2 separate regions of the Homo sapiens genome follow, and region 1 is linked to region 2. The links come from fine-mapping of genetic effects on gene expression. A gene starts in region 2. The other region holds a variant in brackets. All regions are shown on one strand. Distances are between the middles of the regions. Region 1 overlaps CAP2 (cyclase associated actin cytoskeleton regulatory protein 2). Region 2 holds the start of CAP2 (cyclase associated actin cytoskeleton regulatory protein 2).

Evidence for each region. PIP is the estimated chance that this variant, and not a neighbour inherited with it, causes the effect.
Region 1: its variant is fine-mapped to the expression of CAP2 in nasal epithelium (TOPMed, PIP above 0.99).

What each region holds. Positions count from the first base shown.
Region 1 is chr6:17,519,432-17,524,812 of GRCh38, forward strand. All of the region lies in intron 7 of CAP2 (cyclase associated actin cytoskeleton regulatory protein 2), which reads left to right. Among named protein-coding and RNA genes, the nearest start is that of FAM8A1, 78 kb to the right of the region's middle. The variant C/T (reference allele first, on the strand shown) is at 3,189.
Region 2 is chr6:17,391,393-17,396,773 of GRCh38, forward strand. CAP2 (cyclase associated actin cytoskeleton regulatory protein 2) reads left to right here and starts at 2,203. Exons shown (of 13, transcript NM_006366.3): 1 at 2,203-2,354.

The DNA.
Region 1 (5,381 bases), 130 kb after region 2:
AATCTTGTCATTTCTATGAGCTTTTTTCCAACTTATTAAGACAGCTGTCAACTAGAAAGACCCCACACCAGAAACTAACTTGCTGTTTTCAGTTAGTTTCATCCTTGGGACTGGACCTCTTTTTCATATGAGTTTGTGTCATTTCCTCAGTGCTAAGTTTCAAATGCACTTCGTTGAACAAATTGATCTTTTGGCACAAACCCATTAGCAGCACTGTTACTTAGGATCCCTCGCAGTTGGTCAGAGCTGTAATATTCCTTGGCATTTCCTTCAAATCAGATAACTAAAGTCGAAAGACTAAGGCCTAGTCTTTACCCTTATAATTATTGAAATAATTGACTTTTTTCCTACAAAACTCTTCATTTCTGTGAATCTATAAATGCAGACTATTATCCTGTTCTAAAAACAGACTATTATCTGTTCAGAAAATTCTGCTCAGATAAAGGTCATGTAAAGAATTCTATGATTAGGAGAAATGTGATTATTTTATTAACTTTCGGTTGTTAAACTTGTTGACATATTTCTGTCCTTTCCTATATTTCTGAATTACTTTAGCTTTGGGATCAAATAAGATATAATTATTTGTAGAGTAGAATAAAACTGCACATGGATGAATGTATATACAGTCTTATGTAATAGTGATGTAGTTCTATTTTTTTTGTTGTTACTGTTTTTTGTTTTGTTTTGTTTTTTTGATACAGAGTTTCGCTCTGATGCCCAGGCTGGAGTACAGTGGCACGATTGCAGCTCACTGCAGCCTTGACCTCCTGAACTCAAGCAGTCCTCCTGCCTCAGCCTCCTAAGTAGCTGAGGCTACAGGCGTGCACCAACATGCCTGGCTAATTTTTATATTTTTTTTGTAGAGACGTGATTTCACCACGTTGCCCAGGCTGGTCTCAAACTCCTGGGCTCAAGTGATCCGCCTGCCTTGGCCTCCCTAAGTGCTAGGATGATAAGCATGGTAGGATGATAAGCTGCACCCAGCCAATGTAATTCTTAATAATACGGGTTTTAAAAATCCATCCTATACACTATCATCCATCCTAGCCTCTCCTGAACCTCCAGGAAAATGCAAGTCGTTGGTGGTGGTTACAATTATAGACAAGGTGGCGTTTCATTTTTCCCAAAGCAAAATGCTTTAGGATCACTTCTTTTCCTCCAGGTAGATATTTCTTTTCTTTCTGTTTCTTGGTGTAAAGGCCAAATGTCTGTTAACAAAGTGAAAGTTTAATAGCTTACTTTTGATCAAATTAAAACTCAGCCAGAGGGTATCCCGACTTATTATAAATAATGTAGACTCTGTGGCATGTCATTAACTATGAATATGTATGCCTTGTACGTTTTCAAGTCTTCAGGCCTCTTTACCTTCCTCTTGCTATTTACAAGAGAAAACTGTTCTTAAGCTTTTATATCCAAATTTTCATTTAGAACTTGTACCAAACCCACACCTTAGGGGTATTAATCAAAGTGAATGGGCAGCGCCTCAGATGATGTGTTGGTTGTCTGATGACAAAGCTCACTGTTCTCTATGGCTCTTCCCACGGAGTGGCCCTGGCCAGTGTACCTGACCACAGCTGCGTCGTTCTACTTAGTTCAGTTTGGGCTTCTAGGTCCCTTCTGGGGCTCTGGGTGGCCAGTTACTCTTATTCTCTTATGGAAGGGTTCCACATTGCTCAACAGGGGTTAGAAGTGTCATCAACTGGCTGGGCGCAGTGGCTCATGCCTGTAATCCCGGCATTTTGAGAGGCCGAGGCGGGCAGATCATGAGGTCAGGAGATCGAGACCATCCTGGCTAACACGGTAAAACCCTGTCTCTACTAAAAATACAAAAAAAAAAATTAGCCGCACAAGGTGGCGGGTGCCTGTAGTCCCAGCTACCGGGAGGCTGAGGCAGGAGAATGGCATGAACCTGGGAGGCGGAGCTTGCAGTGAGCCAAGATGGCACCACTGCACTCCAGCCTGGGCCACAGAGCGAGACTCCGTCTCAGAAAAAAAAAAGAAGTGTCATCAACTAACAAAGAAGCCTCAAATGCACAGGTAGATAGTAAAGTTAGGTTGGAAGTGGCTGTGAGTTCAGCCTGACAGAGACCACATAATTAAACCAATATGGCTTAAGCATCTACTATGCACTGAGTTCTGGGCAAGGGGCTAAGAATACAAAGATGGGTAGATGGCATTGTGGACACGATTCCTGTCCACGGAAACGCGCATTCTAGCTGAAGAAGATGAGCAATGCACCATGATAGAACAGGGGGAGCAGTGTGCTAGGGAATCCACACAAGGCATGACGCTTGCATAGACCAGGACCACGTGGAAGATACGGCCCATCCTGTAGTGCAGCATGGTTCTGGGGCCAACAGCAACCTGGGCACTTGTTAGAAAGCTCAGGCCCCTTGATTGGGCGCGGTACCTCAAGCCTGTAATCCCAGCACTTTGGGAGGCTGAGGCGGGTAGATCACCTAAGGTCAGGAGTTCGAGACCAGTGTTGCCAACATGGTGAAAACCTGTCTCTACTAAAAATACAAAAATTAGCTGGGCGTGGTGGTGCAGACCTGTAATCCCAGCTACTCAGGAGGCTGAGGCAGGAGAATCGCTTGAACCTGGGAGGTGGAGGTTGCAGTCAGCCTGCATTGCACCACGGGACTCTAGCCTGGGCGACAGAGCAAGACTCTGTCTCAAAAAAGACAAAAAGGAAAGAAAAAAAAAGAAATCTCAGGCTCTCAGGCCCCACCTCAGCCCTCCCAAATCACAACCTACTTTTCAACAGGATTCCCAGGTAATTTATATGCATAGTGAAGTTCGAAAAGCACTGCTCTACTGTATTTAAGTTGGGCCAAAGGAGTTGTTATAGGGAAATCATTCACTTTTACACGTTCATTTATTTAGTAATTCACTTCCTTGGTAACTACTTATTGGCTACTTACCATGTACCAAGCACACACCAGGCATTATATTTATACTACAGTTCTTCCGTGAAGCAGCAGGGTTTTTATTATGATGCATAAATAAATAACAGCAATACAAAGCTAGGTTGGAAAATAAGCCTTGTGAATTAGACTCCTTCCTGGGTGGGCACGAAGAGCCACAAAAGGGCTGACACTTGATTTGGATCTTGACGGTGAGCAGGAGTTCCCTAGGCAAACAGTAAAGGGAAGGGCAGTTTTGGGGCAGAGAATTCAGCATATGTA[C/T]GTAAGACATGAACAATGTACTTTGAGAGAAAGGCTGGTGGTTTTGCAGAGCTGAATGTGGCAAAAGGTGAGGCCAGAAAGGCAGGTTGGGGCCAGATGGTGAAATCCTTATGCATTATGCTAAGAAGGTGGGGCTATGTAGTGTTTGAAGTTGTTTCCTTTGCCATAGGTTTTGTTGTTTGTTTTTTGTTTTTGAGACAGAGTCTCACTCTGTCGCCAGGCTGGAGTGCAGTGGCACGATCTCGGCTCATTGCAACCTCCGCATTCTGGGTTCAGGTGATTCTCCTGCCTCAGCCTCCAGAGTAGCCGGTACTACAGCCATATGCCACCATGCCTGGCTGATACCTCAGGTGATCCACTCGCCTTGGCCTCCCAAAGTGCTGGGATTACAGGTGTGAGCCACCGTACCCAGCCTGCATGGGTTCTTAAGCAGAAAGCAACACACTGTGAATAATGACTTAGGAATTGCATAAGATAGATGGAGAGGGGAAGAGATTAGAGGCCCTGATACGTGTTGGGAGACTTTAGTGGATGGCTAGAGGGTGAGGTAGTTAGTATGTGACCTAGAGTGTGACAATGGCAATGCAAAGAGATGGAGTAGCCACTGAGTTGGAGGACAAGGGACATAAAATCTAACACAAAATTTCCAATCTGGAAGTCTGGGAGAGAATCGTGGTAATATAAAAATAGGGAAATCGCAAGGAGGAGCTGGTAGAGAAGGAAGAAAAATCTTCACCTGGGGTTTCACTGCATTGTGTTTGAGGTGCGGGAGGTATAGGAGAGACATCCAAACACGTGGAGTCAGGAGGTGAGATTTAGATCTGGAATTCACTGAAGGGGGAGACCCCGATGTACGTGTTGGGAGTCATCTACCTAGAAAAGACCGGCAAATAAATAAGATGGTTAAAAAAGAGAGAGTGAGATCAAGGATAAAACCTTGGAAAACACTATTATTTCAAGAATGGGGTAAACTAATCAAGGAGACAAGAGATAGGAGAACTAGAAGAATGGAGAGTCTCAAAGCTATAGGGAAAACAGGCTGGCCAGTGATACCAACTGTAGTAAGCTGTGGTGAATAAGGATTGGACAAAGGCTGTCATCAGCCATGTTTACCATGTTATTAGTAACCTTCCAAGAGCAGTTTCTGGAGGACTGGAGGCAGATGCAGTTTTACAGAATTAAGGAGTAAAATGTTTTTGTAATCAAAGTACTTTGGGAGGTTGAGGCGGTTGGATCACAAGGTCAAGAGATCAAGACCATCCTGGCCAACATGATGAAACCCCGTCTCTACTAAAAATACAAAAATTAGCTGGGCGTGGTGACGCATGCCTGTAGTCCCAGCTACTCAGGAGGCTGAGGCAGGAGAGAATGGCTTGAACCCAGGAGGCAGAGGTTGCAGTGAGCTGAGATCGCGCCACTGCACTCCAGCCTGGTGACAGAGAAAGACTCTGTCTCAAAAAAAAAAAAAAAAAAAAAAGGAGTAAGAAGTTTTCCTGTAATGATCTCTTGATTATTTCTGGACCAGTTGTCTAATTTGATGGATTATTTCTTATGGCTTCAATTTCTGCCTTTTGAAATTTGGGGTATTTGTGAATTTTCATTTTAATCTGTGCTATATCTTCAATAGAATAGGTGAAAAATAGTCAAATATCTCCAATTTCACACACAGTCATTAAGAGCTATACTGTGAAGCTCTAAGTAAATGTGTTCTATTTAGAACTGTTTTTATTATCTCATAAATACCTTTGAGTTTTAGTGTCAGTTGATAATGATGCAGGGAAGGTGAACCCCAAAAGTGGGGCTTAGCCAGGAGGGTTCTTGGCTTTGCCCAGGCGAGAATTCAAGGGTGAGCCAGCGGTGTTAGACAGCAGCTTCTATGGCAGCAGCAATGTGCAGCAGCAGCAGGGGTACCATAGGAACTGTGCCCAGAGTAGCAGCTCAGGGACCATTCTGCCATTATATTTATATTCACTTTTAATTATAGGCAAATTAAGGGGGAAGTTATTCAGAAAGTTCTAGAAAAGAGGTGATAACTTCCAGGTCATTGCCATGGAAAGGGGTAGTTAGTAACTTCCAGGTGTTGCCATGGCAGTGGTCAACTGACATGGCCCTGGTGGGCATGTCTTCTGGAGAGGTGCTTTCACCTCTTTCCCCCATTGCAGCGAGTCTTCAGTCTGGTTTGGCATTCAAGTC
Region 2 (5,381 bases):
TATTTTCTGACCTAATCCTGTACAAGAAAATGTTATCAACAAATACGTAGTCAGTGATCTTCATGTGTCTGGCCTGAGAAAATAGCAATTAACCAAACAGACCTAATCCCCATTTTCCTGGAATGTATAGGTCCAATTGGAAAATATGGACAATAAGTATCAAAGAGTTGTGAGGAAGAAGTGTTCACTGGGGGCTAGCCCTTTTGGGGAGACATCATATAGCAGACAGATGCTATGACAGGGCTAGTTAAGGGAAGAGTTCAGGCTTCAAGTTGAGGCTCGTTACTTTCCCCTCCAGACTAGCTAGTTATTTCTTAGTGGATTTCCCTGCCTCCTATCTCTTTCCAGTCCTATATACCACCACCAAACTAACCATTGCTATCATGATTATGCTCAAAAATGGTCAATAGTCCCCCAGTGCCTACTACTTAGGCTTCAAACATTTTAGGCTGAGATTGAAGGCCTCTACCAGCCAGGGCCTAACCTTCCTTCCATACCTGGCTTCCACAGCCCTCCAATCCAGCTAAACTCACAGACTGTCCTTCATACATGCCATCCTTTATTACCTCTCCACTTTTGTCCCTGCCCATCATCTTGAGGGTTTTTCCTCCACAATCCACTCTTAATGTCTCATTTCCGCATGAAGACTCAACTTTCATGTCCATCAGAAAGTGTTCTCTAATCCCCAGTCTAGAAGCAACCTTCCTTTCTTCTGAACATCCATGGAAATTTGTTCATACTTCTTTTAGAATGTTTTTTACGACATTCCTAGAACTGTGGTTATTTTTATACTCTTCACATCTTCCTACTATATTATCAACCTAAAGACAGGATTTGTGGCTCATCCACTCTTAGACTCCATAATACTTTATACTCCAATAAAAAACAGATGTAGCTAAGGAAATACTGTGCTAATGTTTGTTGAAGTTAGTGCTAAAAAAAAGTCATATGAATGGATGCTTGGAACTTCCCTGTGATCCTGCACACATTGATTCTTATGGATATATATTTTTTCTGCATTTCTGGAACACAAATGTTCTAAATGCATACATACTTCATCCATCCATCCATTCATTCATTATTTAATACAAACATATTGAATGCCCGCCATATGCAAGGTATCCACAGGATAGGGAGGGTGCTGGCTCTGGCTTTATGCAATGTACGCACTCATTGATCAATGTTTATGTCATTTTGTTTCCCTTCTTTCCAGACAAAGGGAAGCAAAGACTCACTGCACCTCATTACTGTCAGCAGAGAGCAATGTGTAATTGGAATGACCTTTGTATAAGTGCTGACCTATGGGGTCAGAATAAGCCTTATAATGTACAGAACCAACTTATGTGCAATTTTAACATCGACAGAGAATATTGGCCTTTAAGAAATTCATCTCATATTTATTGTTTGGAGATTTTACTTTCAGAAGATATCAGTTACATTTCCCCTCTTTTTTTCTCTTTTCTGCAATTATTTTCCTGGCATTCATTCAATAAAGAGCTTCAAGTCACTTTTTTAGACTGAAATAAACTTTGATGAAAATTGAAAATCAATGCTTTCCTTCTAATGACGTTAAGAGAAAAGCCTCCAATTTTGCAATTATAATCAATATATAAAGGGGAAGTGGCCACAAATATGCTGCACATCTTAAGAAGCCAAGTGGGTTTGGTTACTTTAATTTTTAAATAATCAGGACATTTAAAAAGTTGCTGTTTATAAAATACTTTTTAAAAATGTCATCACACGCACTATGAGTGCACTCAGTCTTGATGTCTCGCTAAAGCATTAGCTGTCTAGCTCCTTCTCCTCCCAGAGCCTTTATCCTCATATTGGGTCTGGGGACACACATGCCGTCTCTTGATTCCTAAGGATCCATTACCCATTTCTCTGCACAGATCTTCGGGTATCCAACCTATCTGTGCCTCCTTCAGCCAGGAGCCTCCGGATCTTTCCAGACTTCTTTGCAATACTGCCTCATGCACTGAATCCATTTCTCGCATAGCCTGGCGCTTGGCAGGCAGGCTGGCGTTCCCTGGCTCTGCCTTCCCCATCTCCCTGTCTTTTCTCCCACGGCCCATCTGCCCCTCCTTTCCTCCACCCCCTTCTCCTCTCTGCTCCCCTTTATTTCCACTCCCCACCCGCGTGGCTTTGCTCTCCCTCTCCCCCCTCAGCTCGTCTGTATTTGGAGCTCCGGAAGCTGCCGGCGACTCTCCCCTGGAGCAGCGTGACTGACACCGGCTCCTATTCAGCTGGGAGGAGGGAGAGGGGAGGAGAAGGGGAGGGCCGCGGGAGGAGGGTACGAGTGGCCGACCACGGATTTGCATTGCCGAGGACGGGACCCCAGGGCAGCGAAGCAGGTAATCCTGCAGCGGTCGGGGCCCGGCGAGGCGGGGAGGGGTCGGGGTGCAGGTGCGGGGGGCGCCTGGCGGCGGGCGCTGGCAAGTTGAGCCCGATGGGTGGGGTAGGGAAGCGGCCGGGACGCTGCGGCTGTGGCAGCAGCGCGAGGGGAATAAAGGCGGCGCGGGCGCGGGGGCCGGGGCGCGGCGACCCGGGCGCGGGGCGCGGGCGCGGGCGGACTCCCATCTGGGTCAGCGGAGCGGCGCGCCCTGCCCCCGCCTCCCCAGCTCCGGCGTCCTGGCCGCTCGGAAGGCGGGGTGCGGGCAGGAGCTGCCCGGGGTTGGCGGGCGGCCGCGGCCTCCCCACCCCAGCGCCGCCGCCCGCCCGGCCGCTCTAACTTTGGGGGGTCTCGTCCACCGGGCTGTGAGTCTTCCAGGGGGGTGGGGGTGGGAGTCATTGCGCCGGCTCTGACCAGAGCCACCTCGATCAGAAAGTGCTGGAAAGAAACAGACCTGGCTTCCCCTCTGCAGAACCTGACTTGAGGCGATGAGTCACTTCTAAAAAATGCAGAGGCAACTGAGACTGGGGGAACGGCTCGGAAAAACGGCACCCGCCGCTGGCTCTCTGACTGCTTTGGGTAGAGGGGTGTTCGTGGAAGTAGCCGCCGTATCATCACTTTTAGGGCCAAAAATCAACCTGCAGATGGCCTTTTCTTTATTCTCATCAGAGTGGTGTTCGCTGCAAGTTGTAGCAATATTTGAATGGATGCATTCTTAAAAATGAGTATGTATGGGTGACTGCATTTAGGAAGTTGAACCGGGACTAGGTCCAAACAGCCAGAGTGGAGATGAACACTTGGTAAAAACATCTAGGACCTTTGGTTTTATAGTTATGGAAATGCAGAAGCTTCTGGGACTTGAGCACTGTAGTTTACTGAGTACTCCTATTTCCTTACTGCTTCTGTAGATTTCATTGAAGCTATGTTCCTTAGAATTCTTGGTAAACTATCTAAGCCCACTTAGTGTAAAATTACAACGGTAGAGTGAACTTTAGAGAATTGGATTTATAGTTACTAGAGTCTAATTAGACTGCAAGCCTCTTGAAAGCAAGGATGGGTTGTTTGGTAGTTCCTACGGCACCAAACAGTATTTGGCTCACAGCATGTAATGGATAGACAATAAAAGTGTGTGAAATAGTTAATTCAGTACCTTAAGTGTAGATGGAGCATGACTTCTTGAATATACTGCATATTTTGCAAGGAAAGGCGACTTCTCCATGAATCCCGAAATTTAAAAAATTCTTAATAACATTACAATCAAAGTGTCATATAAATACTTCTTAAGGATAAAGAGAAAAAGAAGTTGACTATGAGAAATCAGGAAGGTGATTATCAAGGTGGTCTTTGCTAGTAGGAAGTAAGTTTTTGTTCCCCATCGTTAATGTGAGAAGTAATTTAATTTGTTGATACAGGGTAGGGTTTGGTAAACCTTTGAGTTAAGAGCTAGATAGTAAACATGTAGGTTTTGCAGGCCATATGGTCTCCTTAGCAACTACTCAGTTCCACAGTTATAGTTTGAAAGCAGCTAAAGACAATACCTAAAGGAATGGTATGTTTGTGTTTTACTTTATTTACAGACATTGAACCTTGAACTTTTCACCAGTAACAAAATATTCTTCTGTTTTTTTCCAGGCATTAAAAAATGTAAAAACTATTCTTAGCTTGAGGGAGGAGCAGAAAACACAAAAGTAAGAGAGAAGGGAATGGATTTGTCCTTCTAGTAGTAGTTTGCTACTCCCACTGATTGATTCTGTGCTAGAATCTGGAGAGGAGCCTATTGAAAGGATTAATGGGCCACATTCTCTTGAGTGCCTGTTATACCTTGGCAGTTAAGTTAAATACCCTCCAGAAAAGCATTAACTTATTTTGAGCATTATGGAGTTTTGTTTTGTTTTGAATATTTCCTAACATCTTTATTCATGAGGTTTTGTTTTGTTTTTAATTTATTATGTAACATTTTATATGTAAAAATAATACGCTAAGTCTAGGTGAGTTATGAACATTATGTTCAACTGAACACCTGTGAACCCATCACTAGGTTTATAAACTAGGGCTTAAGAACTAGATAGTTGTGAAAAGATAGCTCATAGAATGGGAGGAAATATTTAGGAATCATGTATCTGATAAGGGTCTTGTATCCACAACATATAAAGAGTTCTTACAACTCAATAATAAAAAGAAAAATAATCCAATTTAAAAATGGGCAAAGGATCTGAATAGCTATCTCCAAAGAAGATATACAAATGGCCAATAAACCCATGAAAAGATACTCAACATCATTATTCATCAGAGAAATGCAAATCAAAACCACGATGGGATACCACTTTATACTCACTAGCATGGCTATAATCAAAAAGTCAGATAATAACAAATACTGGTGAGGATGTGGAGGAATTGGAACCTTTGTACACCACCGATGGGAATATAAGATGGTGCCCTCACTTTGGAAAAGTTTGGCAGTTCTTCAAATTAAACATAAAGTTACCATATGACCTAGCAATTCCATTGTAAATATATGTCCAAGAGAAATTAAAACATATGCTCACAAAAAAACCTGTACACAGATGTTGACAGCAACACCATTTATAATAACCAAGAGGTGGAAACAAACCAAATGACTATCAGTTGATGAGTGGATAAATAAAAGGTGGTATATCCATACAGCGAGATATTATTTGGCCATAAAAAAGAGTGGAGTACTGATACATGCTACAACATCGATGAATCTTGAAAACATTATGCTAAGTGAAAGAAGCCAGTCAAAATATCACGTACTGTATGATCTATTCATTTGAAAATGTCCAGACCAAGGAAATGTATACAGCTAGAAAGTAGATTTTTTGTTGCTTAGGGCTGAAGGGGCTGGAGGTGGGTTGAGTAGGGAAGTGATAGATAAAGGTCACAGGGTTTCTTTTTGAGGTGAAACATGAAAATATCCTCTAATCGACTATAGTGATAGTCGCACGTATCTGTGAATATACTAAAAACC